7 separate regions of the Homo sapiens genome follow, and all the other regions are linked to region 7. The links come from fine-mapping of genetic effects on gene expression. A gene starts in region 7. Each other region holds a variant in brackets. All regions are shown on one strand. Distances are from middle to middle.

Region 1 (4,065 bases), 59 kb after region 7:
CAGTCACTGCTCAGGGACACGGGTTCTTTTCGGGGAGGCAAGCGTGTTTGCAGCGTGTTCTGGATGGGGAGAGGTGCAGTTACTGGTCAGGGACACGAGTTCTTTTCGGGGAGGCAAGCGTGTTTGCAGCGTGTTCTGGATGGGGAGAGGTGCAGTCACTGGTCAGGGATACGAGTTCTTTTCGGGGAGGCAAGTGTGTTCTAAGCGTGTTCTGGATGGGGAGAGGTGCAGTCACTGGTCAGGGACACGAGTTCTTGTGGGAAGAGGAGTGTCCGGGAGCCAGATGGCAGTGATGGGTGGACGGCCCCGTGGATGGACTGACCACCGACCCATGCTCTGCACTCATGAGGCGTGGCTATTGCTGTGTGAATCACATCTCCATGGAAACGGGAGTGGGAGAAACGGGCCCCAAGGATGTTGTGAAGATGGCCTTATGGGGCTGCACTGGTGACTTGGACAGTGCTGGCCACCGGCCCTGCTCAGTGAACAAGAGCCATGGTCATCACCCTCGCCACACAGAGCAGCTCCTCCTGCAGACTTGGGGACCCCGTGGCCACCAGACCCCGCGGTGGGAGCAGAGATGCCTCCGAAACTCTGGAGACCCACAGAGGCAGAAGAGGATTCCACGAGGCCGGGGCCCGTCAGCAGATCCTCAGACGGCGACACGCGCCACTTCCTTTTCTGTTTCCTAGACCTTTTAACTGATGGAATTCAGTAAGCAGAAAACGTGCTTGAAACAAGGGCACCATGGAGCGGACCCTCCCCCTCTCCCCTCGTGGAGTCCTTGACCCTGGGGCAGGTGACCCTTCTTGCTTTGCAGGCAGGGGCTGTGGCTGGAGCTTCTCCTACAAATGGGCTGTGCTGGGATTAGCCCGGCTGTACATTTGCTTTATGCTTCCGTTGGCATTTAAAAATCTGATGTTCATATTTGCCGTATTACGTGAAGTAGGACGAAACGTTCCTTCTTGCTTAGAGCAGTGTTTCCCCAGAGGTGCCCGGGCCCAGGGGACAGTGGCCAACCTCTGGAGACATTTCGTGTTGTCATGAGGCTGGGTGTCCAGGAGGGGGCGATGCTGCATCTGCTGTGCACAGGACGCGGCCACATCAAAGGACCCCACCTGCAAAACACATGCCCAACCTCCTTCCTCCTCTCCAGCCCAGAGTCAGGGCTGTCCCCCCTCCCTCCAGGGGACACATCCCCCCTCCCTCCACGGGATACATCCCCCCTCCCTCCACGGGACACATCCCTCCTCCCCCCACGGGACACATCCCCCCTCCCCCCACGGGACACATCCCCCCTCCCTCCAGGGGACACATCCCCCCTCCCTCCACGGGACACATCCCCCCTCCCTCCACGGGACACATCCCCCCTCCCTCCAGGGAACACATCCCCCCTCCCTCCAGGGGGCACATCCCCCCTCCCTCCACGGGGCACATCACCCCTCCCTCCAGGGGGCACATCCCTCCTCCCTCCAGGGCGCACATCCCTCCTCCCTCTAAGGGGCACATCCCTCCTGCCTCCCCAGGGCACCAGCACTTGCACCACGTGCTCTGTCTTCCCATCCTCTTGCACACCCCAGACATGCCTGGTTGTGGAGGGTGCCAGGTCGCCAACGTGACAGGCCTGGCTGGGCCTCTGTGTTGCAATTCCTAGCACCATTGGTTTTGCTTGTTTGGGACAGTGGTTATTATAACTTCTGGCACCCCCGGAACTCTAAGAAAACAATACTAGGAAACAGAAGTTCCTGATTCGTCTGGAGGCAGAGCAGAAACCCAGGCGGAGGGTTGTGTCCTGAGGACACTGGTGACTGTAGCCTGTGTCTGTGGGGGCCTCCCCACGTCTCTGTCCCTGAGACTGGCCGTTGCCTGTTTTTGCTCCTGGCCGTCTTGACTTGGGGAGGATGGAG[G/T]TTGGGCAGGAGCAGGCTCCCAGCCGGCTGGGGAACATTATGGGAGAGCACTGGGGGGCACCCACCAATGTGATCTGACGGACGCCGCAGTGCCGGGCTGGAGGCCGGGATCTGAGGGACGCCGCGGTGCCGGGCTGGAGGCCGGGATCTGAGGGACGCTGCGGTGCCGGGCTGGGATCTGACGGACACCGCGGTGCCGGGCTGGAGGCCGGGATCTGAGGGACGCCGCGGTGCCGGGCTGGAGCCTGGGATCCCAGCGTGCGGCTGTGGCCCCTGTGGCCGTGTGAGGCCGTGCAGTGGGCAGTGCAGGGCTCTCCTGGGGCCCAGGGGGCTGTGTTCCACGGGCTTCTTGGAGCTCTGCTCAGCTGGCTCTGGCATCGTCGGGGTCAGACGAGTTGGCCTGCTTAGCGAGCCGTCAGCATCCACGCCTGGGCCTCCCAGAACTGGGCTTCTGTGCTGATGGCCAGATCCGAGCCCTGGGCCCGACCATCCTCAGCCCAACCAGCACCTGGACATCCCGGAGCCAGCGTGGAGGCCTGGGCTGCGGGTCCCCGACCGTGTGAGCAGCCGGTGGCCATCTGTCCCGGCCCGAGTGGAGAAAGCGCATCTGCCTGCGGAAGGTCCACGTGCTGCTGGGCGAGGCTGGCGAGAGCCGTCACACACACGCGGGGCCGCTGGCGGCAGATGGACGTTTCCGAAGGGAGCCGGCAGGAGCCTGACGTCTGCCCTCTGAGGCCAGGGCCTCCCCCGTCACTATTTTCTCACGGTACCGAAGCGAAAGTTGCCTGCAATACCTCTTAGACTAGGTTGAAGTCCTGAATTCAGGCTGCAGCCCTCAATCAACAGAACTTCTGCCCAGGTGCTGCCAAGATTTTGGGGAGAACAAGAGGCCCTTGCCCGGCGTGTCCAGAGCAAGTGGCATCATGCCCACGATGGCGCAGGGTCATGGGATGTGGCCCGAGGAGCCCATAACTGGCACCGGTCAACAAGAGCCCCAGAGACACAGGGTGGGCCTGCCAGGGACCCTCAGGGACCACCAGGGCCTGGAGGCTCCAGCGTAGACGAGCTGGGCGGCTCTGGACGGCAGGGGATGGGGCCCCCTGTGCATGGCCCCTGGCAAGGTGCCTGGCTGGCCGTCCATCCGTGGGGTGAGCTCGGCCCAGGCGGGCAGGGTCCCTCCAGGTGGGCATGAGTGTTGCTGGCTCCCGAGCCTTGGAGAAGCTCTGCCCATTCCACAGCCGTCAGGCCGGGGGCCAGAGGGAAGCCGCTCCTTCCCGGCCCGAGGCTGCCCCTCAGGAGCCCACTCGGCCGATGCCACCTTGTCAGTCCAGCCAGCGGGGCCTCCCCTGTGGCCTTCAAAGCCACAGGCCTCTTTCTAGAAACCTCTTTGCAGTTCATTTGTGGCGATTTATCCCTGGATGGGTTCTCATGGATTCTATCCTTCTTCTCCACCCGACTTTTCTCTAGGTCAAGTGCTGACCCCAGCCAGGCAGAGGCAAAGATGCCCCGACGCACAGCCTGTCCTGCCCGGTGGGCGCAGCTCTGGGACTGACTGGTGGGAGGTGGGGCTGCTCCGAGCTGCCCCGTCTCACTCCTGCCCAGGGAGCTCCGAGCACGGGTGGGGGTTTGGTCTTAAAGTGGAATCCTGGTTTGGGCCTCAGAGCTGAAACCCTCCCTGATCCCCCGTGTGGCCCCTGCAGTGACCGCATCCACCCTGGGGACCCATGTTTGGCCCAGAGGCTCGAGCACAGGTGGCCGCGTCCCACGGGAGCGTCAAGCCATGAGTCTTGGTCGTCCCCTTGGGACCAAGGAGAAGCAGTGACTCCGTGGCCCCCACCAGCTGCGGCTCCGACATCCTTCCAGGAGGCAGGCAGGGTCCCGACTGCATTTCAGGCACCTGCCTGGCCGCGTTCCGGCTGCCCTGACCTTCCCTGCAGACTTGTGGCCTGCTGGGGTCAGAGAGCACCAGTGACCGCTCCACCCCTTGCAGACAAGGAAGCTGAGGCTGAGGGACATGGGGACCCTGCCAGTGGGGACGCGGGAAGCAGGGCTGGCTTTGCTCCTGGCAAGCTCTACCCCAGACCGACACAGAGAAAGCAGTTTCCCTTTCTCAACAGAACACACTTGAGGCCCGGAAGCAAGTGGATCTGTGCAGGAG
Region 2 (4,065 bases), 21 kb before region 7:
TGGCCTGCACGCCACATGGTCCCCTGCACCCTGCGGCGCCGTGGTCCTCTGCACACTGGGGCACCATGGTCCCCTGCACTCCGGGGTGCCATGGTCCACATCTGCCAGGCGCAGGCTCTGTTGGGCTGTTGGGAGGAGGGGAGCGGGTGTGGAGTCTGGGGGTCTCAGTGCATCTTGGGGTCTCCTTATCTCAGGGTGTCCAGCTGACGGCAGCTGGTGCAAAGTTCCCACCCCTGAGCTGGGGAGCTGAAAATGTTTTCTGTCTTGACCCTGAGTCCCGGAAGCACCTCAGCTGCTCTTGGCGGGCAAAGCCAGGACCGTTTGCTCTCTGACCCTCCTCCCCACTGGGGCTGGTCCGTCTCATCTCCCAGGGGACACTTCAGGCCACGGGCCTTGTGCATAGGGACAGAGCTCCTTGCTGCAACCCCTCTCTGTGTTCCCAGTAGCAGCAGCACTGGAGTCCTAAAGCCATAGCCCGGGAAGACACTCACAGCCCACCTTCTCATACAGCTCGGCCCCACCCACAATGCACCTGGCATTTCCAACTGCACTTTGAACACTGAAGGTTCCCCAAATGCTTTGTGTGTTTTAACTGCAGGAAGTTAGTTCTGTTGCAACTGCCTCCAGGACACACTCCCTCTTGAGGGCCGGCGGTGCTGGCCTGGGTTCCATGGCCTCAGCAGCCGGCTCAGAGGGAGTGCATCCAAGCCGCAGGGAAGCAGTGGTGATGGGCGGCCTGAGGACTCCTTTCCAGAGAGGGCCTCTGAGCTCCTTTTAGGAAAGAACTTCCTTTGAGCCCCGGCCACTGTTGTACCAGTGGGAGAAGAAGCCTGACCCTGCCACATGTGGTCACGGGGAGAGAAGATGGTAGGACGTCCCCGTGAGCCTTGGGGCAGAGCTGGTGGTAGAAAGAAGCCCTGTCTACTCTAATTTGGTGAGAGGGGCCGCGGCAAGTGGCTGATGATGTGACTGATGGAGACAGGGTGGCTTGGGAAGGTCCCACTTGGGGGTGTCACGTCCTGCAGGGAGTGGAAGAGATGGATCCTCCGTAGCCTGGACTGGTGGGTCTCGGCCTCTCTCCCAGAAATGGCAGAGACAGCTGCCTGAGAGTCAGTGCTGCAGTGGGCAGGGCCTATGCCCTCACAGTCCTCAGGCTGCCAGGTCGTCCTCTTCCTGTTGGGGAGAAGAGGACCCTGGCAATCCACAATTTTGGAGATTTGCTGGCTGCAGCCAAAATGGGGACCCAACTCCCTCCTATGTGGTTTTAGAGCTTCTGGAGGGAAGATAGGCCACGCCCCTGGGTGAGGAGCACGTCTTCCCACAGATCCTAAGTCGGCCACACCCTGGGTGAGGAGCACGTCTTCCCATAGGTCCCACGTCAGCCACACCCTGGGTGAGGAGCACGTCTTCCCATAGATCCCACATCGGCCACACCCTGGGTGAGGAGCATGTCTTCCCATAGATCCCACGTCGGCCACACCCTGGGTGAGGAGCACGTCTTCCCATAGATCCCACATCGGCCACACCCTGGGTGAGGAGCATGTCTTCCCATAGATCCCACGTCGGCCACACCCTGGGTGAGGAGCACGTCTTCCCATAGATCCCACGTCGGCCACACCCTGGGTGAGGAGCATGTCTTCCCATAGAACCCACGTCGGCCACACCCTGGGTGAGGAGCACGTCTTCCCACAGATCTCAACAGAACTCCACATCGTCTGGTTTTGTGGAGACTTTCATATGTCCTGTCAAGTTGCCTCATGCACCTGCAGACTGTTCTTGGGAAGCAAACCTGGACTGCAAAATAAACCTCCCGGCCTCCTCCTGTCCTGGCTCTGAGCGTCTGACACTTCTGAGACCTGGGATGTTCAGGAGGAGCTGTGGGGCGTCCAGTGCTTTTTGACATAAAACTACCCATCCAGGTGCACCTGAGCAGGCGCAGGCAGGCACAGGAGGAGGCCCGTGGGAAGCGGCCTGCAGGACAGATTTCCGTGCCCACTCTTTCTCCTTCCTTCCTTCCTTCCTCCTTCCCTCCCTTCCTTCTCTTTCTTTCTTTTCTCTTCTCTTCTTTCCTTCTTTCCTTCTCTTTCTTTCTCTTTTTCTTTTTTTCCTTTCCTTTCCTTCCTTCTTTTCTTTCTTTCTTTCTTTCCTTCCTTCCTTCCTTCCTTCTTTCCCTCCCTCCCTCCCTTTCTGTTTCTTTTCTTTTCTTTTCTTTTTGAGACAGATCTCTCTCTGTCACCCAGGCTGGAGTGCAGTGGCACAATATCAGCTCACTGTAACCTCTGCCTCCCGAGAAGCTCAGGTTCAAGCAATTCTCCTGCCTCAGCCTCCCGAGTAGCTGGGACTGCAGGTGCCTGCCACCATGCCTGGCTAATTTTTTGTACTTTTAGTAGAGATGGGGTTTCACCATGTTAGCCAGGATGGTCTTGATCTCCTGACCTCGTGATCCAC[C/G]CGCCTCAGCCTCCCAAAGTGCTGGGTTTTTGTATTTTTAGTAAGAGATGGGGTTTCACCATGTTGGCCAGGCTGGTCTTGAACTCCTGACGTCAGATGATCCGCCCGCCTCGGCCTCCTGTTTTGTTTTCTAGAATGTTACACATCGATTAGGTAATGGCTATCAGTCTCACTTCATACACTCTGGAACATGAAAGACTCCATTTCTGATTTTTTAAACCCATTTTAACCTGCCTTGCATTCCTATGGCCCTGGACAGGTAAGCAATCTCATCCTGGCTTCACTGGGATCAGGGGGCTTGGAGGGGCTATGAGTGGTCGCAGCAGTGGAGGGAAGCCTGGCTCCCGGTGCCAAAGAGCCCCGTGGCCCCCCCAGGCCCACCAGCAAGACCCTCTGCCTGTTTTAGGGCTGGGTTGCCAGACACGATACAGGACATCCCAATGAATTTCAATTTCAGATAAATAAGGAATCATTTTTTAGTGTAAGTCTATCCCATGCAGTGTTTGGGACATACTTGACCTAAAAAATGATTCATCATTTTTCTGAAATTCAGATTTAATGGGATGTTCCGCAGTTTTCTTTTGGTTAACTCTGGCAAGCCTGTTGCAGATTATATATTTATCTGTAAGATCAGCAGTGGTTCCACTGCACAGGCAACCTGTTGGGATAAAACCACAAAAGCAGCTTCGTTTTTGGCTTCTGCCATCTCTTGGGTCAGTTGAGTGGTGTTTTCACCCCTCGATGAAACTCATGCTCACCCCATGCATTCATACAAGGCATTCGAAAGCCCTATTGTCACTTTATTTTTTATTTATTTTTTTTTGAGAAGGAGTCTTGCTCTGTCGTCCAGGCTGGAGTGCAGTGGTGCAATCTCGGCTCACTGCAAGCTCCGCCTCCCGGGTTCACGCCATTCTCCTGCCATAGCCTCCCAAGTAGCTGGGACTACAGACGCCCGCTGCCATGCCTGGCTAATTTTTTGTATTTTTCAGTAGAGACGGGGTTTCACCGTGTTAGCCAGTATGGTCTCGATCTCCTGAGCTGGTGATTTGCCGGCCTCGGCCTCCCAAAGTGCTGGGATTACAGGCGTGAGACACGGTGCCCGGCCTCTTGTCACTTTATTTTTAAAAACTTCTAAATCTTTGTGTCCCATGGAGAAAATACATCACGAATGCTGAGTCAATGATCCTACGGAGACACCCCGGCGGGCCCTGCCCAGTTCTGGAGCTCTGACACTGCCTGCCCCCGCCTGTTTGCTCCCCACCCAGGCAGCACCAGCCTCCTCTCAGGGGCTCAGTGTGCGTGGCCCCATAATGGTCACAGCTCCACATGCGATGAGCTTTGGTGCCTCCGTTCCCGCGGGGCTGCAGTGTCTGACGGTGGCGGTGCATGTGTCTCATGCCCACCTGCCTGCAGAGTGGCCCTGCTTCCTGTGGCCAGCCTCGGCCTCTGGCTCTTCAGGGCTGAGCTGGGATGAAGGAAGGCATCCAGGGCTATTCTTGCCTGCCTGGTGCTGCTGCACGTGGCTCGGTGCCCTCCGGGCAGATGTCTCTATGGACTCTTCATCTGGGCCCTCTGTTGTGGGCAGTCTTGGGGTTTCAGGCCCCTGAATCTGGGCAA
Region 3 (4,065 bases), 37 kb after region 7:
CAGCCACTGGGAGACAGAGCTCAGGGGTGTCGGCCAGCTTCCTGCTAACTGCCCGGACTTTGTTCAGACCTACCTCTTCTCGTAAACCTAAAGTATGTATTTTGGAAGGGCACGTGCTTGATGTCTGAGCTCTCAGAATGTCTCGTCTGATCTGCTGTGGAGGAAAGTTGCCTTAGAAGAAGGTGCCAGCAGGTGGGAGAACCATCTCTCTGTAACTCACGCAGGGACCGTGCCGGTCTGGGACCCACCTGAGAAGAAAGGTGCCAGCAGGTGGGAGAACCATCTCTCTGTGACTCACGCAGGGACCGTGCCGGTCTGGGACCCACCCAAGGACGCACTGACTTCTGTGGACTCGCTCTCCGGCCCGCTGCCCCAGCCCTACCGCCTCATCACTCACATTTAATGCAAGGTGGCATCGGTGACTGCCAAGCGTGGGCTCACCAGGAAGCCCCCAGTTGACAGCTCTTCCTCTGCTGAAGGATAAAAACACCCAGACTCGCAGTGAGGGTGCCCACTGTTTAAAAAAGAAGCTGCACTTTCCTCCGCAAAAGGGCTTGGCCAGCAGCGTGGTGCGCCCTGGACCGGCTCTGATGGGGCTTCCAGGGAGGACCCCCAGCGGGCCTGTGGTGTGGAGGGTCAGAAGGAGAGGGAGGGGCAGGCGGCCACCACTGGTCCATGGCCTGAAAGGTTTGGGCCCGCCAGCCCCCACCCCCCGCCTTCTGCTGCTGTGGGGCCTGATGGGAATGCGTCCCACCTGCGAATCCAGCGGGTAGCGTTAGAGCCTTGGCAGATGGGCTGGATTTGGCTTCTCTTTGGGTTGCGGGTGACGATAGGTGTGCAGCCTGGGGCAGAGATGGACACACAGGGCCATGCTGACATCGGGGGAAGAGGCCACAGCAGTTCCACGTGAGGGTCACGGTCGATGGAACTCCTCTCTCCACATACTTGGCTCCCCAGGGAGAAGGAAGGTCGGGGTGCCTCTGCCGGGCGTCTTTGCAAGTGTGAGGAGGAGACCACTCTGCTCGGTCGGCTCTGCTCTGAGTCTGGACGAGCACCCACGCTCGTGCCTGGTGCGCAGGACAGGTCCGAACAGACTCAGGCTTCCCCTGTCCCTGTGTAGCACCATGTGCCCGAGCCACAGGCCCTCCCTCTGCTGTTACCGATGGGTTCTGCTTGTCACTGGGACCTCTTTCCCGAGCCGACAACTCATCCATCGGGACGGAACCAAGCGAGATGCCAACTCGGGGCCACAGTTTTCAGCGGCCATTCAGGAGGGTCTGCTCTGCCCAGCGTGGTACCAAGCCAGGCACCGAGAAAAGAATGACAGCACCCGCCCTCTGGTCAGGGGTCCACGGGGATGGAGACTCCCTGCTAGTTTTTAGGGTTAGGGCAGGACACCCCGCTTTATAGCAGAGTTTGTAGTGGCAAGAAATTGCCAACTGTTTAACTATCCATCAGAGTGCACTGGTTAACTAACGCACTATAAACCATTCCTGGCTCCAAGCTCCAAGACCATTAGGTAGGAAAAGCAGGTTGTGCGACAGTGTGTGAAGCTGATCCGATGACTGTAAAGGCCTGTGTCAAGCATGCACATGTGTGTGCGTGTGATGAGCACACATTAGGGTTGGGCACACGCCCTGCCGTCTGGGGTTGCTTCTCAGAGGCG[C/T]GTGCCGAGGGCCCGGGGATGGCAACGCCCTTCCGTGCAGAAGGCGCCTGGGTGGGTCTTGCGGAATAGACGCGTGAGGACGACCCGCAGGGTGGAGTCCGGCCTGGCCAGGGCTGGAAGTCATAGGACGAAAGGTAGAGGTGAGAAGAGGCAGTTCTGTGAAAGAAGCCCCGACCTCGAGCTGGGACTTTGAATTGGTTTGCGTTTGAAAACCGGGGTTGGTAAAAGCTGGGCACCCACACCTCTCCTTCTGTTGCAGCTGGTGGCAGCGATCGTGTTTATCAGTTTTGGCGTGGTGGCCGCCTTCTGCTGCGCCATCGTGGACGGCGTATTTGCAGCACAGCACATTGTGAGTACATTGTCATTGTGTGCACAGTCGCTTTCCGGGGCTGAAAGAGTCGACGTGAAAAAAGTACAATTTCATTTTGCAGATCTCAGCTCAGACGGCTTCACCGTCAGTCTCCACGCTGGGGGTTGCCAGTGACTGTCTCTCCTCTCAGTAAGTCTCATTTCCTACACAACGAACTTCCCTCTCCACACAGACTACACACACCACACAACACACAGAGCACACAGCACACACCACAACAGAGCACAGAGCACACACACCACAACAGAGCACACAGCACACAACACACAGAGCACACAGCACACACACAACACAGCACACACCACACAACACACAGAGCACACAGCACACACACCACAACAGAGCACACAGCACACACCACACACCACACAACACACAGAGCACACAGCACACACACAACAGAGCACACAGCACACAACACACAGAGCACACAGCACACACACCAAAACAGAGCACATAGCACACACCACACAACACACAGAGCACACAGCACACACACAACAGAGCACACAGCACACACACAACAGAGCACACAGCACACACACCAAAACAGAGCACATAGCACACACCACACAACACACAGAGCACACAGCACACACACCATAAGAGTACACAGCACACAACACACAGAGCACACAGCACACACACAACACAGCACACAGCACACACCACACAACACACAGAGCACACAGCACATACACAACAGAGCACACAGCACACACACAACAGAGCACACAGCACACAACACACAGAGCACACAGCACACACACCATAACAGAGCACACAGCACACAACACACAGAGCACACAGCACACACACAACAGAGCACACAGCACACACCACACAACACACAGAGCACACAGCACACAACACACAGAGCACACAGCACACACACAACAGAGCACATAGCACACACCACACAACACACAGAGCACACAGCACACAACACACAGAGCACACAGCACACACACAACAGAGCACATAGCACACACCACAGAGTACACACCTCACACACCACACAGAGCACACGCCTCACACACCACACAGAGTACACACCTCACACACCACACAGAGCACATACCACACAGAGTACACACCTCACACCACACAGAGTACACACCTCACACCACACAGAGCACACACCTCACACACCACACAGAGCACACACCACACAGAGCACACACCACACAGAGTACACACCACACACACCACAGAGAGCACACACCACACACACTACACACACCACACAGAGCACACAGCACACACACCACACAGAGCACACACCACACACACATACACACCACACCACGCTCTTTTCACCTCTAAATGAACAGGTTTTCTCTAAAGTCGCAGGCCAAGGAATCGTTTCTGTGTCCTCCTGAGGTGCGTCCTCAGCCTCCGGTGGGCTGCGCCATCCCCCCTCCTCCCTGGCTGGGCTCCTGGGTGGGCTCTCGCCATCTGGGCGTCAGCTGGTCCCCGGGAGCAGCCGAATTGCTTGTCATGAACTCTCAGACCAAACCTGTGATTGTTTCTCCCTCTTTTTCCATAAATCACACTGAAAGGCACTGAAGGTTGGTGTTAGGCCTTTGTCTGCCCCAACGGTTTCATTATATGAAGGCAAGTGTGGGAGCACATTCACAAAACACACGTGCGTGCGCACGCATGCACACACCACGGCCCACATGCTCACACTCGCGCGCACACACACACTCCCACGGAGGTGCGTCATGGGAGCTTTCTCAGCGGGTGGCTGGGTGACTTGCTATTCTATGGCTTCCAGACGGTGGTTTCCACTGTGCTCCAGGCGCCCGTGGCCGTGGCCCCGCCGAGGAGCAGGGTCCAGTCTCTGACCGCAGTCGGGGGTGTCCCCAGGTTCCGGACCTCGGGCGCCTGTCCATTCTGGAGGGCCACGCGGGGCATGCATCTAGGCAAGTGTGGGAGCCTCTTGGTTAGAAACAAAGCAGGGCCCCTGGCCGGGGCCTCCCAGGGCTGACTTTAGGACGGATGCGCAGACAGCACTCACTGGAGC
Region 4 (4,065 bases), 42 kb after region 7:
TATGGATGACAGATGGGTGGATGGATGGATGTGGATGAATGGAAGGATGGATGATGGATGCATTATGGATGAATGAATAGATAGATGTAGAGGATGGAAGGAAGAATGGGTGGATGCACAGATGATTGATTGGATGATTGGATGGATGGTTGGGTGGGTGGGTGGATGATTGGATGGTTGGAGGGATGAGTTTATTGGTCTGAAATCCTTCTTGCTACCTTCCTAGTAGAAGAGACAATATTTTCTTTTATGAAACGATGCAGGAGCCTAACACCTGTGATGTGGGGTGGTAGGGATGCCCCTCAAAAGGCCAAGCACCTGTCTCCCTTCTGCTGCCCTTGTTGACTGATGGAGAATATGCATGGCCCGAGGTACCCTCCCATGGGGCTTTCTGCTGTCTGGCCTCCTGGATGCAGCAGCCCAGCTGCTCTGCAGGGAGCGTGGAGTCTCCCATCTTGTGTTCTGTGTCTGGGAGGCTCAAGTTGGTGTTGGCCTTGGTCCTTGAGGCCCTGAGCCTGAGACCCACAGGCCTGAAATTGCCTCTGGCCTCTCCCGCCTGGAGGCACCTGTTTTATTCCATCTGTGTTTATCTGTTTCTCTAGGAACCGAGGCCCCTCACCACGGGAAGATGCCAGTTTTACTCCAGTGGGGTGGGGTACTTGTACGATGTCTACCAGACAGAGGTGAGCAGGAGCACTGAGATTCATGTGGGTTTTGCTCAGCTAACCCCGCCGACCCCACGCGGTTTTCCCTGCACATAGGCGTGGTCTGAATATTTTGATTCTAATAGTTCCTGGGGGTCACCCCTGCAGCTGGTGAACCGTTGATGCCCCCTGTGTTTGGGACCTTGACATTTCGATGTGCTGTATTTCACTCTGGAGTCAGAGTTCTGGACTTGCTTCATTAAATCACAACAGTCTCAGAGTGCACGTGTCCAGTTCTGTATGGCTCTTCCAATTAGCATTTTTCTAATTTAATTATTGCAATAAGAAGCAAGGATAATACATTTACAGTGTCCGAGAAACTTCTGGATTTCCCTGAGCCACCGACAGCGGCAGTGTGACCTCATTTCTCTTTCCAGGTGAGTGAGATGCGGGGAGTAATGACCCGCGGGCGGCCGCCGCCTTCGCCAGGACCGTCGGAGGGCACAGCTCTGTGACGGCGCTCTCTGTGTGTCTCGCACCTGCCCTGTGTGGATTCCTGGCTTTAACTAAACGCAGCCTCTCATCCTCAGCACGCGTGTCAGAGGAGGAGGAGCTGGAGGCCCTCTCAGTGGCCAGCACCTGCCAGCTTGTCTGGGACTCTCCAGCAGCTGCCGGGAGGCATCGTGTGTGTGTGTGTGTTTATGTGTGTGTGTGTGGGGGGGGGTAGGCAGGAGGCGTCCCGTGTGTGTTTAGGGGGGAGGTGTCCTGTGTGTGTATGTGTATGTGTGTGTGGAGGTGTCCTGTGTGTGTGTGTGGGGGGGGGTAGGCGGGAGGCATGCCATGTGTGTATGTGGGGGGGAGGCATCCTGTGTGTGTGTGTGTGGAGGTGTCCTGTGTGTGTGTGTCAGGGGAGGCGTCCTCTGTGTGTGTGTGTGTGTGTGTGTGTGTGTGTGTGTGTGTGTTGGGGGGTGTCCCCTGGCCAGGGCTTTCAAGGTTGTCACACAGAGGTGGCAGGTGTCTCTTCTGAGGCTGCCAGTGCTCAAGCCTGGGGGGAGAGCGCCCTGGGACGGGGCCTGTTCTGCCGCCCTCCGGGCTCTCAGGCTTCTGTGCACCCCACGCCGAAGGCCTCCTGGGCTCTGTCCTTCTGCCCACGCACCCTGATATTTCCCTCTGCTCCTGGGATCATGGAGAAGCAAGGCCTCTCCTCTGAGCCCCGATTATCCGGCCTCTGGGACCAGCCTGTGCCCCTGACCCCTCCTGCAGGAAGGGTCCTGGCCCCCGAGCCCCCAAGCCTCTGTGTCTGGAGTCGGGGGAAAGTCGGGGGAGGCAGCTGCTTGGCTGGGCCTCAGTGGCCGCTCCCAGCTCCCATGAGGCAGCCCTGCCCTTGGTGGGGTGGGTGAGGTGGTGGGCACCGGCATGTGACCTGACAAGGCCTCTCTGCCCCAGGTCACCTGTCACTCCCTGGACGGCAAGTGCCAGCTGAAGGTGAGAAGCAACACCTGTTACTGCTGTGACCTCTATGCCTGCGGGAGGTGAGGGGCACCGGGGACCCCCATATCTACACCTGCGGGAGGTGAGGGGCGCTGGGGACCCCCGTATCTACACCTGCGGGAGGTGAGGGGCGCTGGGGACCCCTATATCTACACCTGAGGGAGGTGAGGGGCGCTGGGAACCCCCGTATG[T/C]GCCTGCAGGGGTGAGGCCTCCATCCTTCTGCTCCTGACATCACCCCCCCCACACCCCTGCACCTACATCGTCTCCTTTACTCCTTAGATGTTTACATGAGGAAAGGACATTGAGTCCATTTCACAGATGAAAAGACAGAGGCTCTGAAATGTTGATCTGCCCAAGAGGACACAGCCCGTGTGTGTCGGGCGAGAGTTTAAACCTGGCCTGGCCTCTGAGGCCCCAGGCATGGCCCCCTCTTGGGACAGGGGCCCGTGACCCCGACGGCCTTCCCATCCTGGCGTGAAGACAGAGATGGCTCAGCCGGGGCCCAGACACCCGTCCTGCCAGGCCATCGAGGCGGAGGGGCGGGCCCGCCAGGCCCAGTTGCCGCTCTTTGCCACTGTGGGCCCCAGGTGGGGAGCCTCACAGGCCAATCCCATCAGACATAGGTTTGATCTCCCAGAGCAGTGCAGGGATGGGCGTTGACTGGGCTCCAGCCCTGATTTCCTCCCCCAGCCCTGCAGGGCTCAGGTCCAGAGGACACAAGTTTAACTTGCGGGTGGTCACTTGCCTCGTGCGGTGACGCCATGGTGCCCTCTCTGTGCAGCGCAGAGCCCTCGCCCGCCTACTATGAGTTCATCGGCGTCAGCGGCTGCCAGGACGTGCTGCACCTGTACCGCCTGCTCTGGGCCTCTGCAGTTCTGAACGTCCTGGGCCTGTTCCTGGGCATCATCACCGCCGCCGTCCTGGGGGCCTTCAAGGACATGGTGAGGCCCCTTGGTGGGACCCCCGCTGCTCACTGGGAGCCGGGGCTCCGGGTCCATTTCCCCGGGGTGGGCTGGGGGGCCTCCAGCCCTCACTTTACAGATGGGGCACTGAAGCCCATGCGTCTGTCAGCAGGGTGTCAGGGTGACAGCTGGCGTGCACCGACTCACCTCGGGGCCGTCCTGTCCCAAGCCTGTCACAAGAATCACCTGATTTAATCCTTGCCTCCCCGCTGAGGTGGGCACAGCCGTCCCCAAGAAACAATGTTCAGCTCCAAGAGGGAGGCCCAGCCCTTGTGCACTAAGCTCCCATCATTAGCAACTGCCTGGGGCTTCAGATGGGCAGGTCTGGGCTGGGGCTGAGCTGATGCCTTAGCAAACCCCAGAGGCGAGACCCATACAGCCAGGATTGGCCTGGGCAGGAGGAGGGAGGGAAGGGGCCCCTCGCGGGAGGTGGGCTGGACCCATCCTGGAAAGGCCGGCCCTCGCCCGGGAAACCACAGGGAAATCACTGGCCCGGGCCGGATGTCCTCTCTCTTCTCCCTCCTCTGCCCTCTCCTGGCGCCTGTTTCAAACCAGATGTTCTCGTGGTGTGCGGCCAGCAAACCCCGCCCCCTGAACTTGCAGAGAAGCTGTAAGGGATGGGCAGCCAGGAGTGAGGGAGCCCCAACCCCCAGAGTATCCAAACGGCAGCCCAGGGACGAGGGGCGCCCCCTCTTGCACCCACATGAGGAGGCCTGGCAGCACCAGGCAGACGCACATCATGCAGGCCAGACCCGGCCCAGCGAGGCAGCGAAAACACTCCTGAGCGGCTTCTCCATGCCCTATTCGTCCCAGAGGCTGTCCATGACTAAAAATTAGCTCAGCTGGGAACCCTCCTGCCATCTGCTTCTCAGCTCCTCCTTTTCTCAACACTTTTGTGCTTCCAGACAAAACTGGTGAAGCTGAGAGTGACCCTGGCATCCCGAGGTCCAGCCCTCTGGCTCCCCACC
Region 5 (4,065 bases), 50 kb after region 7:
TCAGCCATGCCCGGGACACAGCAGCTGTTGGGCTCAGTGGAGATGACCAGGGCCTGACAACATCTCCTCGTGGAGGGATCCCTGCACCTCATACCTCAGTCTCCCCTCTCACTTCGAATATAAAGCTGGGGCCCTGCTCCCTGGGAACACAAGGCCCCTGCTGGAGGTCTGGCCTGGAAACATCTTTTCCATTTCTGTGACGGGGGAAGATGTGGTCCCCAGGGTCAGATGGCGGGAGCTTTTGCCAGCGACCCTGCAGTGGTCACTCCTGCAGGCAGGCGCGTCTGCTTGGTGCCACAGGCAGCTTCATCCTTCCCCAAGCCTCCTGCCCCTGCCCCAGGGACGTCCCCATCATGGCAGGGACCGTGCCCCCAGGGCCACAGCCCTGTCCTGGGGGCTTCTCTCTGGCCTCCTGGTCTCCCGTGGGAAGTTTGCCAAGCCCAGAACTGGAGGCCCGCAGGGGTAGAAGGAGGAGGCCCGCAGGGGCAGAGGTATCTCCAGGGACGCTGGGCCTGCAGGTGCTCCCCAAGCGGCTCTACACAGACACAGACTTGGAATCGCATGGGTGCCAAGAACGTGCAGCCCAGAGCATAGCCTCGGTGGCCCATGCTGTCTTCCATCCTCAACCTCAGCCGCTGCCCCTCAGGGCCCCAGAGGAGAGACAACACGTGGTTCCATCAGCCCCTTCCTCTTCTCTGGCTCCAGGGCTGGTTTGGGCCGCCCTGGTGCTGGGGCCCGGCTGTCTGAAGCTCTGGCTGTGAGGGGCCCGGCTTCTCCAAGTTTGCATTCTGACTTGGGACCTTGGAGACAGTGAGGCTTTGTGGAGGGAGGGGCTGGTGACTCCCTCAGGCAGGTGTGTCCTCCCTGCCTGTGAGCCCCACGGAGGTGTAAGATGTGGGGGTGGTCCTTCCCGTCACACGCAGGCTTACGGGATGTGGAGGGTGGTCCTCCCTGTCACACGCAGGCTTACGGGATGTGGGGGGCGGTCCTCCCCGTCACACGAGGGCTTACGGGATGTGGGGGTGGTCCTCCCTGTCACACGTGGGCTTACGGGATGTGGGGGGTGGTCCTCCCCGTCACACGCAGGCTTACGGGATGTGGGGGTGGTCCTCCCCGTCACACGCGGGCTTATGGGATGTGGAGGGTGGTCCTCCCTGTCACACGCAGGCTTACGGGATGTGGGGGGTAGTCCTCCCCGTCACACGCAGGCTTACGGGATGTGGGGGTGGTCCTCCCTGTCACACGTGGGCTTACGGGATGTGGGGGGTGGTCCTCCCTGTCACACGCAGGCTTACGGGATGTGGGGGGCGGTCCTCCCCGTCACACGCAGGCTTACGGGATGTGGGGGTGGTCCTCCCTGTCACACGTGGGCTTATGGGATGTGGGGGGTAGTCCTCCCCGTCACACGCAGGCTTACGGGATGTGGGGGGCGGTCCTCCCTATCACAGGAGGGCTTACGGGATGTGGGGGGTGGTCCTCCCCGTCACACGCGGGCTTACGGGACGTGGGGGGCACAGGGGCAGATCCACTTCATCCCCATGGTGCTCCATCCTCATCCACCCTGGGGCTCTGGGTTTA[C/G]GCAAAGGGTGGATGTTCCCCTCTTCCTCTGGGGAGGCCTGGGGCCCTCAGATGGCCCAGCCAGCCTTTGTGCCAGGCCAGCATGTGTGGGAGCTTAATATACGCACGCTGATAATTGGATTTCAGAGATGGCAAATCAGATGAGGCTCATGTGCTCCTCAGAAGAACAATGGAGGAGGGGCCCTGCTTCCACAGAGATGGAGAGAAAATATTCAGGGTGTTCCATGGAAGTCGTTAGCAGCAGAAAATACTCCCACTTGAGACAGTGGGGGATGGGGAACAGTGACTTGGTGGGGGAGGTTTTGAGCAGTTAATAAAAAGGACAATTTAAAGAGATCACCTTCCTTGCACCCAGCAGCTTTGCCAGGCATGAAGTGCAGGGGAGGACGTGGCATCACAGCAGAAGATGAGTTCCTGCCCCGTTACTAAGAAACATGCCCTCCCTTCCCCTGTGAGATTACTCGTGGGCAGGGCTTGTCCCTAGGGGGGCCCTGTCATTCAGTGGTTAACCCCGTGGTCCCAGGGTTTACTCTGTGGTTCCTGGGGGTTTATTCCATGGTTCCTGGCGGTTTACTCCATGTTCCTGGGGGTTTACTTTGTGGTCCTGGGGGGTTTACTCCATGGTTCCTGGGGTGTTTACTCCGTGGTTCCTGGGAGTTTACTCCATGGTTCCAGGGGTATTTATTCCGTGGTTCCTGGGTGGTTACTCTGTGATTCCTGAGGGTTTAACTCTGTGGTTACTGGGGGTTTACTTCGTGGCTCCTAGGGGTTTGTTCTGTGGTTCCTGGGGGTTTACTCCGTGGTTCTTTGGGGTTTAACTCTGTGGTTTCTGGCGGTGTAACTCTGTGGTTCCTGGGGGGGGGGTTACTCCATGTTTCCTGGGGGTTTACTCCGTGGTTCCTGGGGGTTTACTCCTTGGTTCTTGGGGATTTATGCTGTGGTTCCTGGGGGTTTGCTCCATGGTTCCTGGGGGTTTACTCTGTGGTTCTTGGGGATTTATGCTGTGGTTTCTGGGGGTTTACCTCTGTGGTTCCTGGGGAGATTACTCTGGTTCCTGGGGCTTTACTCCATGGTTCCTCGGGGTTTACTCTGTGGTTTTTGGGGGGAGGTTATGCTGTGTTTCCTGGGGGTTTACTCTGTGGTTCCTGGGGGTTTACTCCATGGTTCCCGGGGGCTTAACTCTGTGGTTCCTGGGGGGAGGGGTTACTCTGTGGTTCCTGGGAGTTTACTCTGTGGTTCCTGGATGTTTACTCCATGGTCCTGGGGGTTTACTCCATGGTTCTTGGGGATTTATGCTGTGGTTCCTGGGGGTTTACTCTGTGGTTCCTGGGGGTTTAACTCTGGTTCCTGGGGGTTTACTCTGTGGTTCCTGGGGGTTTACTCCATGGTTCCCGGGGGTTTAACTCTGTGGTTCCTGGGGGGAGGGGTTACTCTGTGGTTCCTGGGAGTTTACTCTGTGGTTCCTGGATGTTTACTCCATGGTTCTTGGGGATTTATGCTGTGGTTCCTGGGGGTTTACTCTGTGGTTCCTGGGGGTTTAACTCTGGTTCCTGGGGGTTTACTCTGTGGTTCCTGGGGGTTTACTCCATGGTTCCCGGGGGTTTAACTCTGTGGTTCCTGGGGGGAGGGGTTACTCTGTGGTTCCTGGGGGGAGGGGTTTACTCCGTGGTTCCTGAGAGTTTACTCCATGGTTCCTGGGGGTTTACTCCGTGGTTCCTGAGTTTTACTCCGTGGTTCCTGGGGGTTTACTCCGTGGTTCCTGAGTTTTACTCCATGGTTCACTCGGTGGTTCCTAGGGAGTTACTCCATGGGTTCCTGGGGTTTATCTGTGGTCCTGGGGTTTACCCCTTAGTTTCCTTAACTGCTCATCTGCTGTGAAGAAGAGTGGGTGCTACAGAGTTGGAAGTTGGGAGCTCCCAGCAGACTTGAGAGAATGTTCCCTAGTGTCTCACTCTGTCGCCTGTGGCCAGAAACCTGTGTGAGTTTCGGGGGAAGAAAGAAATGAGGTTGGCAGGTGTCCCTGAACCACTGGATCCCATGAGCCTGGGCTGTCAACCTCAACATTGCAGTCCCTCTGAGGAAGGGCCCCATTCTCAGCCTTACCTACACCTGTGCAGAAATTCTGCTGTCAGGATCCAGAGGTCCTGCTAGCTCCCAGGGCGTCTGCAGTGCAGAGCTCTCCAGGGAGAGGCTCAGACAGGCAGCTGGCTTCTCTGGGGATGCTGAACACGCAGGCTCAGACAGGCAGCTGGCTTCTCATGGGACCCTGCAGGCTGGGGCAAGAGGAGCACAGAGCACATCTGGTAGCTTGGAGTTTGAAAAACTCTTCCTGTGTTATTTCTTAGAAGGAGTTTGTTTGCTTTATTTATTTAAAATTTGATTAGAAGTTCCCCCTAGAATTTAAGGGGAAAAAAAGAAAAGAATTAAGATGTGTGTTAGCAGTTGGAGAAAAACTAGAATGTATCAATTTAAAATCTGTGCCGTTCT
Region 6 (4,065 bases), 93 kb before region 7:
CACCTGGGAACAGTGCTGAGTGAGAAATGCAGGTCCTGAAAGGCTACATAGTGTCTGACTCCATTCATGTGACGTGCTTAGAGAAGTCGTGGTTGCCGGGCATTGAGCAGGGCGGGCTGGGGGAACTTCGGTGCATCTGTGAGCAGCACAGGAGGGTCCCGTGGATGGAGGCGGCCTCTGTCTCAGCCATATGGATGCCAATATCCTCGCTACTTGGCAAGATGTCATCATTACAGGAGACAGAGTTAAGGGTACACAGGATCTCTCTGGATTGTTTCTTAACATGGCATGTAAATCCACAATTATCACAGAATAAAGAGTTTAATTAAAAAGGGATTTTCAGGGCCAAATGAATTTGGGAAACGACATACTTTACTTCTCTTTGAGAGACACGTTCACTCTGAAATCACTGAATAAACCCTGTGATGGACACGTTTCACATATTTTTAACTTTGCTTGTTTAACATATTTAACTTTATTTAACCGAACGCTTCCCAACATGACTGCAGGTGGAACGGCCCCCAGTCCAACAGGAAGCCATCCTCCTCAGACCCTACGCCTCCACAGCATCAGCACCACCTGTGAGCTTGTTACAGGTGCAGTCTTGGCCCACCTGGCCACTGAAGCAGACTCTTTATTCCAGCAAGGTCTCCGGGCGATTCATGTGTGTAGCTGTTTGAGGCATGAACCAGGACAGGCAGCGAGACGTCAGCAGAGACGGCTACACTTCACAAAGCACCACAGTTGCCCCATTGGGTGAGCAGGCAGGAAGGAGTTAACGTGATCCGCCCAAGGTCACTGCTGTGAAGGGCAGGGCTGGGCCCGTGCAGGGCTCCTGGTGAACGATGGGATATCACTCACCTCAAATATTTACTCGTGATCCACCTGCCAAAGCCCTCAGGAGACCGTGGGGACGTCGGCTCGGTCTGCGGGCCCTCGCTTCGGCCTCTGTAGACCCTGCCAGGTGCAGCCCCCAGTGCCCTCCCACAGTTGCCTCTTCTCCCACGTGGAATGGGGTGGGCTGACAGTCTCCACCTCTCTATGCTCCGGCATTCTTCCTTTCTGCGACCCTTTGCTTCCTCCCTGTGTGAGCTGGAACCAATCCCCTGCTGAATTCCTCCTCATTCTTCTCCAAACCTTTATTGAGTACCTACTGTGTGCTGGAATAAGACAGGCAGGGCCATGCCCTCATGAAGCTGACAATCCTATTGGTGTGACCATCCCCAGGTGTGTCCCAGGTGTGTTGCAGGTGTGTCCGAGGTATGCCCCAGCTGTCCCAGGTGTGCCCCAGCTGTCTCAGATGTGCCCCAGCTGTCCCAGGTGTGTCACAGCTGCATTGCAGGTGTGCCCCAGTTGCATTCCATGTGTGCTCCAAGTGTGTACCAGCTGTCCCAGGTGTGTCTCAGGTGTGCCCCAGCTGTATCCCAGGTGTGCCTCAGCTGTCTTAGGTGTGTCTCAGGTGCATCCCAGGTGTGTCTCAGATGTGCCCCAGCTGTCCCAGGTGTGCCCCAGCTGTCCCAGGTGTGCCCCAGCTGTCTCCAGTGTGTCCCAGCTGTGCCCCAGGTGTGTGTCCTAGGTGTGCCTCAGCTGTCTCAGGTGTGCCCCAGGCATATCCCAGGTGTGCCCCAGCTGTCCCAGGTGTGTCCTACGTGTGCACCAGCTGTATCCCAGGTGTGCCCCAGGTGTGTCTCAGATGGGTCCCAAGTGTTCCCCAACTGCATTTCAGGTGTCTCAGGTGTGCCCAAGCTGTCCCAGGTGTGTCCAAGATGTGCCCCAGGTGTGTCTCAGGTGGGTCTCAAGTGCCCCAGCTGCATTTCAGGTGTCTCAGGTGTGCCCCCCAGTGCATCCCAGGTGTGTCCCAGGTGTGCCCCAGGTGCATCCCAGGTGTGTCCCAGGTGTGCCCCAGCTGTCTCAGGTGTCTCAGGTGTGCCCCAGGCATATCCCAGGTGTGCCTCAGCTCTCCCAGGTGTGTCCTACATGTGCACCAGCTGTATCTCAGGTGTGTCTCAGGTGTGCCCCAGATGTGCCCCCGGTGTGTCTCAGGTGGGTCCCAAGTGTTCCCCAGCTGCATTTCAAGTGTCTCAGGTGTGCCCCAGGTGTGCCCCCGCTGTCCCAGGTGTGTCCAAGATGTACCCCAGGTGTGTCCCAGCTGTCCCAAGTGTGTCTCAGGTGTGCCCCAGGTGTGTTCCAGGTGTTCCCCAGCTGTCCCAGCTGTCCCAGGTCTCAGGTGTGCCCCAGGTGTGTTCCAGGTGTTCACCAGCTGTCCCAGCTGTCCCAGGTCTCAGGTGTGCCCCAGGTATGTTGCAGGTGTTCCCCAGCTGTCCCAGCTGTCCCAGGTGTGTCCCAGGTGTTCCCCAGGTGTGTCCCAGCTGTCCCAGGTGTGTCCCAGATGTGCCCCAGGTGTACCCCAGGTGTTTCTCAGGTGGATTCCAGGTGTGTCCCAGGTGAGCCCCAGCTGTATTCCATATGCGTCCCTCTGAGTGGGGCCTTGGTTTGATGTAGCTCCGGGGATCTTCTGCTCCCTGGTCCTGGTGTCACCAGCA[A/G]CTGCCTCTTGACAATCCTGCCTTGCCTGCAAACCCCAGGTGAGAAGAAGACAAATGACTGGGAACTGACCCCTCAGTAAGCGCTGGTGGTCTCACCTACAGACCCCCAGGAAGCTGGTCACTGTGGGCTTCTTTTCCTCTCTAAATTCCTATTATCAGGTGGTTTTCTTTCTCATTTGCTATTTTCTTAAAAATAAAAATAGGGAAAAACAGCCTTTGTAAATTACGGTTTCTTCCGGCTCCATCCTCTCCGTCAGGCCCACATCCCAAGGAAACAGCAGGCTTGAGCCTGGCTGCTGAAGCCAGGGGCTGGATGGAGCAGCTCAGAACAGAGCTTTGAGTGCCTCTCCAGCCAGGGGCCCCAGAAGCCTGGTGGTTGTTTGTCCTTCTCAGGGGAAAAGTGAGGCGGCCCCTTGGAGGAAGGGGCCGGGCAGAATGATCTAATCGGATTCCAAGCAGCTCAGGGGATTGTCTTTTTCTAGCACCTTCTTGCCACTCCTAAGCGTCCTCCGTGACCCCGGCTGGGATTTAGCCTGGTGCTGTGTCAGCCCCGGGCTCCCAGGGGCTTCCCAGTGGTCCCCAGGAACCCTCGACAGGGCCAGGGCGTCTCTCTCGTCCAGCAAGGGCAGGGACGGGCCACAGGCCAAGGGCAGCAGTCAGGCCTGCTCTGTCTGTGAACGCTCCCGGCTTGGCCTCGGCTGATGGGCCCTCACGCCTGAAGCGGGCAGGAAGCTCCGGGATGGATTTCGGGTCTTTGGAGACCGTGGTGGCCAACTCTGCCTTCATCGCCGCCCGAGGCAGCTTTGACGGCAGCAGCTCCCAACCCTCCCGGGACAAGAAGTACCTGGCCAAGCTCAAGCTGCCCCCGCTGTCCAAGTGTGAGTCCCTCCGCGACAGCCTCAGCCTGGAGTTTGAGAGTGTGTGCTTGGAGCAGCCCATCGGCAAGAAGCTCTTTCAGCAGTTCCTACAATCGGCAGAGAAGCACCTGCCGGCCCTGGAGCTCTGGAAAGACATCGAGGACTATGACACGGCAGACAATGACCTCCAGCCACAGAAGGCCCAGACCATCCTGGCCCAGTACCTGGACCCCCAGGCCAAACTCTTCTGCAGCTTCCTGGATGAGGGGATAGTGGCGAAGTTTAAGGAGGGGCCTGTGGAGATCCAGGACGGGCTCTTCCAGCCCCTGCTGCAGGCCACCCTGGCACACCTGGGCCAAGCCCCCTTCCAGGAGTACCTGGGCAGCCTGTACTTCCTGAGGTTCCTGCAGTGGAAGTGGCTGGAAGCCCAGCCCATGGGGGAGGACTGGTTCCTGGACTTCAGGGTCCTAGGGAAAGGGGGCTTCGGGGAGGTGTCGGCCTGCCAGATGAAGGCGACCGGCAAGCTGTATGCCTGCAAGAAGCTGAACAAGAAGCGGCTGAAGAAGAGGAAGGGCTACCAGGTGAGCAGCGCGACCCGGCCAGCAGGGATGGGGTGGCAGGGTGCAGGGATGGGGCGGCAGGGTGCAGAGGGCCCCCAGGTCACT
Region 7 (4,065 bases):
ACTGTTTCATCATATCCTATAACCAGTTTCTCAGCTTCCATTCTGCTATCCTACAACTACTCTCCAGTAATCCTATGTGTAGGACCCTCCAATAACCCCCACATCACTCGGAGCAAAGGCCAGAGGCCCTGCGGCTCACCCCTGATGTCCTCCACCTGGTCCCCACAAGCCTCTGGCACCCTGGTCTCCTTGCTGCTCCCCCTGGGCCTGGATGGCTCCACCCCAGGGCCTTTGCATGGAGGTTCCTTTTCCTCAGACCCTCTGCCCCAGATGTCTGGGTGAGCAACCACCTCCACGCCCTCAAGCTTGGTCTTCAACATCACCTGTCAACAAGCTCTCTTTTCACTACTTAAAAACCACAGCTCCCTCCCTCTCCCACACTATACTTTCTATTTTGTTTCTTTACCTCTCTTTCCTTTTTCTGTGGCCTGCATTACCTGGCTGTGTATGTATGTATGTGTGTATGTGTGTGTATGTATAAGTGTGTATGTGTGTGTATGTGCATGTGTGTGCATGTATGTGTGCATGTGTATGTGTGTGCATGTGTGTATGCATGCATGTGTGTATGTATATGTGCATATGTGCATGTATGCACGTATAAGTGTGTATGTATGCATGTGTGTATGTATGTGTATGTATGTGTGCGTGTATGTATGCACACATGTATGCATGTGTGTATGTGCATGTATGTATGCGTGCATGTATGTATGCACACATGCATGCATGTGTGTATGTATGCATGTGTATATATGCATGTGTGTGTATGTGTGTATGTGCATGCATGTGTGTATGTCTGCATGTGTGTATGTGTATATGTGTGTGTGTATTCCATAGCATGTTGCCCTCTGACATGCTGTGCATTTTTCTTGTTTATTGTATTATTATTCATGGCCTCACTTCCCCACCAGGATCCTTGTTTACGTTGCTCATTGATACATCCCAAGTACCTGGAACAGTGTCTGGTATATCGCGGATGTTTAGTAAGTCTTGAGAGGCTCACTGAGTGAACAGTGTTAATTTTCATGGTTTAAAACTTTATATAAATGGTACCATACTCGCTGCCGTACTTGCTGTCGTACTCGCTGCCGTACTGTGCACTTGCATTTTTGCTCCGCGTTCTGTTTTTGGCATTTATCCACATTGATCCATGTAGCTCTCATTTATTTTAACTGCCATGTGGTATTTCGCTGTATATGCCCATTTCTTTATCGCTTCTCCCCGTGTTGGATATTCAGGGTGTGTCCGGTGCTTTGGACACACAGTGTTGTGAGGAATATTCTGTACGCATCTTCTAGCACATGCATACTTCTTGTGGTAGTTTCTCTCTCACAGTGGATGGCCTATTAGAATGACTAGGGAATTCTTAGCTATTAGTTTGTTCCCAGAAGTTCTGGTTCAATTGATCTGGTCTGGGTTCAGTGCTGCAGAAATGTTTTTTCTTTTAAAGACATTCCTGGATGACTTTAACGACAGCCGGGGTTGAGAACCACGGCTCCTGGCTCGAAGGAGCAGATCTATGTTTGTGTTCTTGGGCATATCTAGAAAGAGATATGCTTTCTTTCTGGCTTGTCATCTACTTGCTTCAATTTTCCTAAAGGTTGCTTTCAAAGTGGTGGCACCATGCGTGATCCCAGCGGTGAATGCAGATTCCCACGTTTTCATTAACATTCTTTAAGTTGTTTGACCCTTGGGGTTTTCTGATAGGATGAGGGTGAAACGCATCCTCTTGTTCCCACAGCGTTCCCCTAATTCCGGGGGCTGAGTTTATTGATCGTTCAAGCATCTTCTTTTGTGACGGGACCGCTGATGTCCTTGACTCAAAGATGTTAAAAATACGTTTAGAAGGATCTTTATTTTTTCCTGCTGCTGTACGAGGCACCCTTTCTGGCCCCGTGTTTCCTTGCCCTTCTTTCCAGCAGCAGATTTTACTCAGAACAACTTCAGTGCTGTGGACACAAAGACGCAGGCCTTGGAGAGGCGGGTCAGCCCTGCCTCGGGGCTGCTGAGTGAGGTGCCAGATGCGTTTGTTCCTCATTTACTCATTTGCGTTTGTTCCTCATTTACTCGTTCCTCGCAGACTGGGTTGTAACACCATGTACCACCCTCTGAACCCAGAGATCAAGGGCTGGCTGGCCCTGTAGCCCCAAGGAGCTCCGTCACCGGCCAATGGGGAGGCGAACCCGTGGTGACCCACTCAGCGGCACCGCCAAGGGCTGAGCGTGGCGCCAGCGGCGGAAGGCCCGGGGTCACCGTCCCAGGCCGGGGCTCCGACCCCGAGTCCGCAGGGTCCTCTCCAGGCACCTTCCATCTGGGGTCTGGCTTCCACTCCCGGCCGCGGCGTCCTGATTTCCAGAAACCAGGCGGCCGCTGGAGGGGAGAAGGGGGAGCGGGCGCAGCGGGGGAGGGAGGAGAAGAAACGCCGGAGAAGGGAGAGTAGAGCGAGGAAGGACGCGAGGCGGGCGGAGCGCGGGGAGGTGCAGGGGGCGGGGAAGGGGCGGCGCCGCGAGGGCGGCTCCTGGCGGCGGGACTGTGGCTGTGGCCCCGGGAGAGCCGGGTGGGGCCTCGGGATGCAGCCGCCGGTGCCCGGGCCCCTGGGCCTGCTGGACCCCGCAGGTGAGCGCGGGGCTGGGGGCTCGTCTCGGCTCCTGCGGGGGAGCGTGGGGACCCCGGGGCTGGGACTACAGGTCCCCGGCCGGCCCGGGCGGAACCTGCGCGGAGACGCGGCACGGGGTCTGGTCCCTCCGCCTCCTTCGAGCTCTGTCTTTGGAACACTTTGCATTTCGCACTGGGGTCGGGCGTTCGTCCTACCGGTTCGTTCATTCATTCTCTCTCCCTGTCTCTCTCTCTGTCTCTGTCTCTGTCTCTCTCGCTCTTTCTGTCTCTGCCTCCTCAGTCTTTGCCTTTCTCTGACTCTGTGTCCGTTCCTCTTGGCCTCTCTCTCCCTGTTACGTTTTATTATGAGGAACAGGCGCCCCAAAGTGCGCTCCTTCCCCATCTCTTCCGTTTATTCCAACCTACACCATTTTCCGGGAAAACTTCGTTTGGAAGAGCGAGGTAGCCTTTTCCTGTTTGAACGTGCAGAGGCGCTCACAGAACTGGACAGTGTTGCTTGGTTTCGGCTCGCCCCTCTCTCGTGTTTCTCCCCGGTGTGTTCACGGAATCTCCAATTCTTCCACTTCCCAGACCAAGCCCGCTGCAGCCTCGGAGCCAGGCAAAGGCTGGGAAAACAGGAAACCTGTTGCGTGTTCACCAGTTCGCAAGCCGGGCTCGGGGGCTCTGCCGGGAAGTGGCCAGGACTGGAAGGATGCCGGGTGTCTTCCTGAGGGGGAGAGGGCTGGGCAGATTTCAGAACAAAAGAGAAACAGAGTTCCCTAGAAAGTGAAGCCCTGACGGCTGGAGGGAGGGATGGAGTGGTGTCTAGGGGGCTCTGCCGCTCCCTCAGAAATAATCCAACACAAACTTCTGGGGATTAACCTCACAACCCTTTTACTGCGGCATCGTTCGGAACCGGACGAATTACTGTTACTTAAAATAATCAAATAATTTGGCTTCTTTCTAAAAGAAACCACTATATGCCTTCCAATCTAAAGCAAAATGCTCTATGGTCAAATGTATTAATGTGGATTAGTCTATTGGTGTTTAATAATGATAACTATTATTATTATTTATTAACTAGTTTTATCATTATTAGAATGCCTTAATGTTTAAAAATAGCATCTGACTTAGATTTTCTTCTGACAAAGAACTTTAAACCTTAAAACAATACTTGGAGCTGGTCTTTTTAGTATATGAAACATTGGTGTATCTGGGTAGGATTATGGGTCTTTTTGTTTGGAGCTGGTCTTTTACTAAAATGTATAAAGCATTGGTGTGTCTGGGGTTGGATTATGGTCTTTCTGCTTTGGTGTGTCGGGGTGGATTATGGTCTTTCTGCTTTGGGGTATCTGGGGGTGGGTTATGGTCTTTCTGCTTTGGGGTATCTGGGGGTGGATTATGGTCTTTCTGCTTTGGGGTATCTGGGGGTGGATTATGGTCTTTCTGCTTTGGTGTGTCTGGGGGTGGATT

Which allele goes with the higher level. Alleles are on the strand shown, and positions count from the first base shown. SD is a standard deviation of normalised expression in the study named. Not every link is listed here.
As copies of T replace C in region 3, the expression in sun-exposed skin of the gene that starts at base 2,524 in region 7 goes up (moderate effect, 0.49 SD a copy in GTEx).

Evidence for each region. PIP is the estimated chance that this variant, and not a neighbour inherited with it, causes the effect.
Region 1: its variant is fine-mapped to the expression of TMEM255B in whole blood (INTERVAL, PIP above 0.99).
Region 2: its variant is fine-mapped to the expression of TMEM255B in whole blood (TOPMed, PIP above 0.99).
Region 3: its variant is fine-mapped to the expression of TMEM255B in sun-exposed skin (GTEx, PIP above 0.99).
Region 4: its variant is fine-mapped to the expression of TMEM255B in whole blood (TOPMed, PIP above 0.99). The same link has a PIP of 0.9 or more in lung.
Region 5: its variant is fine-mapped to the expression of TMEM255B in whole blood (TOPMed, PIP above 0.99).
Region 6: its variant is fine-mapped to the expression of TMEM255B in whole blood (TOPMed, PIP above 0.99).

The regions. Positions count from the first base shown.
Region 1 is chr13:113,816,069-113,820,133 of GRCh38, forward strand. It overlaps TMEM255B (transmembrane protein 255B), which reads left to right. Exons shown (of 9, transcript NM_182614.4): 9 at 1-927. The region is part of intron 1 of GAS6-AS1 (GAS6 antisense RNA 1); the gene reads left to right. It also overlaps LOC124903220. Among named protein-coding and RNA genes, the nearest start is that of GAS6-AS1, 2.5 kb to the left of the region's middle. The variant G/T (reference allele first, on the strand shown) is at 1,908.
Region 2 is chr13:113,735,913-113,739,977 of GRCh38, forward strand. It overlaps GRK1 (G protein-coupled receptor kinase 1), which reads left to right. Exons shown (of 7, transcript NM_002929.3): 7 at 1-1,824. Among named protein-coding and RNA genes, the nearest start is that of LINC00552, 13 kb to the right of the region's middle. The variant C/G (reference allele first, on the strand shown) is at 2,449.
Region 3 is chr13:113,793,223-113,797,287 of GRCh38, forward strand. TMEM255B (transmembrane protein 255B) reads left to right here. Exons shown (of 9, transcript NM_182614.4): 4 at 1,926-2,015. Among named protein-coding and RNA genes, the nearest start is that of GAS6-AS1, 20 kb to the right of the region's middle. The variant C/T (reference allele first, on the strand shown) is at 1,667.
Region 4 is chr13:113,798,737-113,802,801 of GRCh38, forward strand. TMEM255B (transmembrane protein 255B) reads left to right here. Exons shown (of 9, transcript NM_182614.4): 5 at 603-683; 6 at 2,091-2,176; 7 at 2,917-3,076. Among named protein-coding and RNA genes, the nearest start is that of GAS6-AS1, 15 kb to the right of the region's middle. RefSeq lists an enhancer at 2,424-3,298. The variant T/C (reference allele first, on the strand shown) is at 2,327.
Region 5 is chr13:113,806,361-113,810,425 of GRCh38, forward strand. The region is part of intron 8 of TMEM255B (transmembrane protein 255B); the gene reads left to right. Among named protein-coding and RNA genes, the nearest start is that of GAS6-AS1, 7.2 kb to the right of the region's middle. The variant C/G (reference allele first, on the strand shown) is at 1,579.
Region 6 is chr13:113,664,105-113,668,169 of GRCh38, forward strand. GRK1 (G protein-coupled receptor kinase 1) reads left to right here and starts at 3,115. Exons shown (of 7, transcript NM_002929.3): 1 at 3,115-3,981. The coding sequence starts at 3,283. The variant A/G (reference allele first, on the strand shown) is at 2,544.
Region 7 is chr13:113,756,703-113,760,767 of GRCh38, forward strand. It overlaps TMEM255B (transmembrane protein 255B), which reads left to right and starts at 2,524. Exons shown (of 9, transcript NM_182614.4): 1 at 2,524-2,613. The coding sequence starts at 2,568. RefSeq lists enhancers at 1,684-2,185, 2,742-3,243.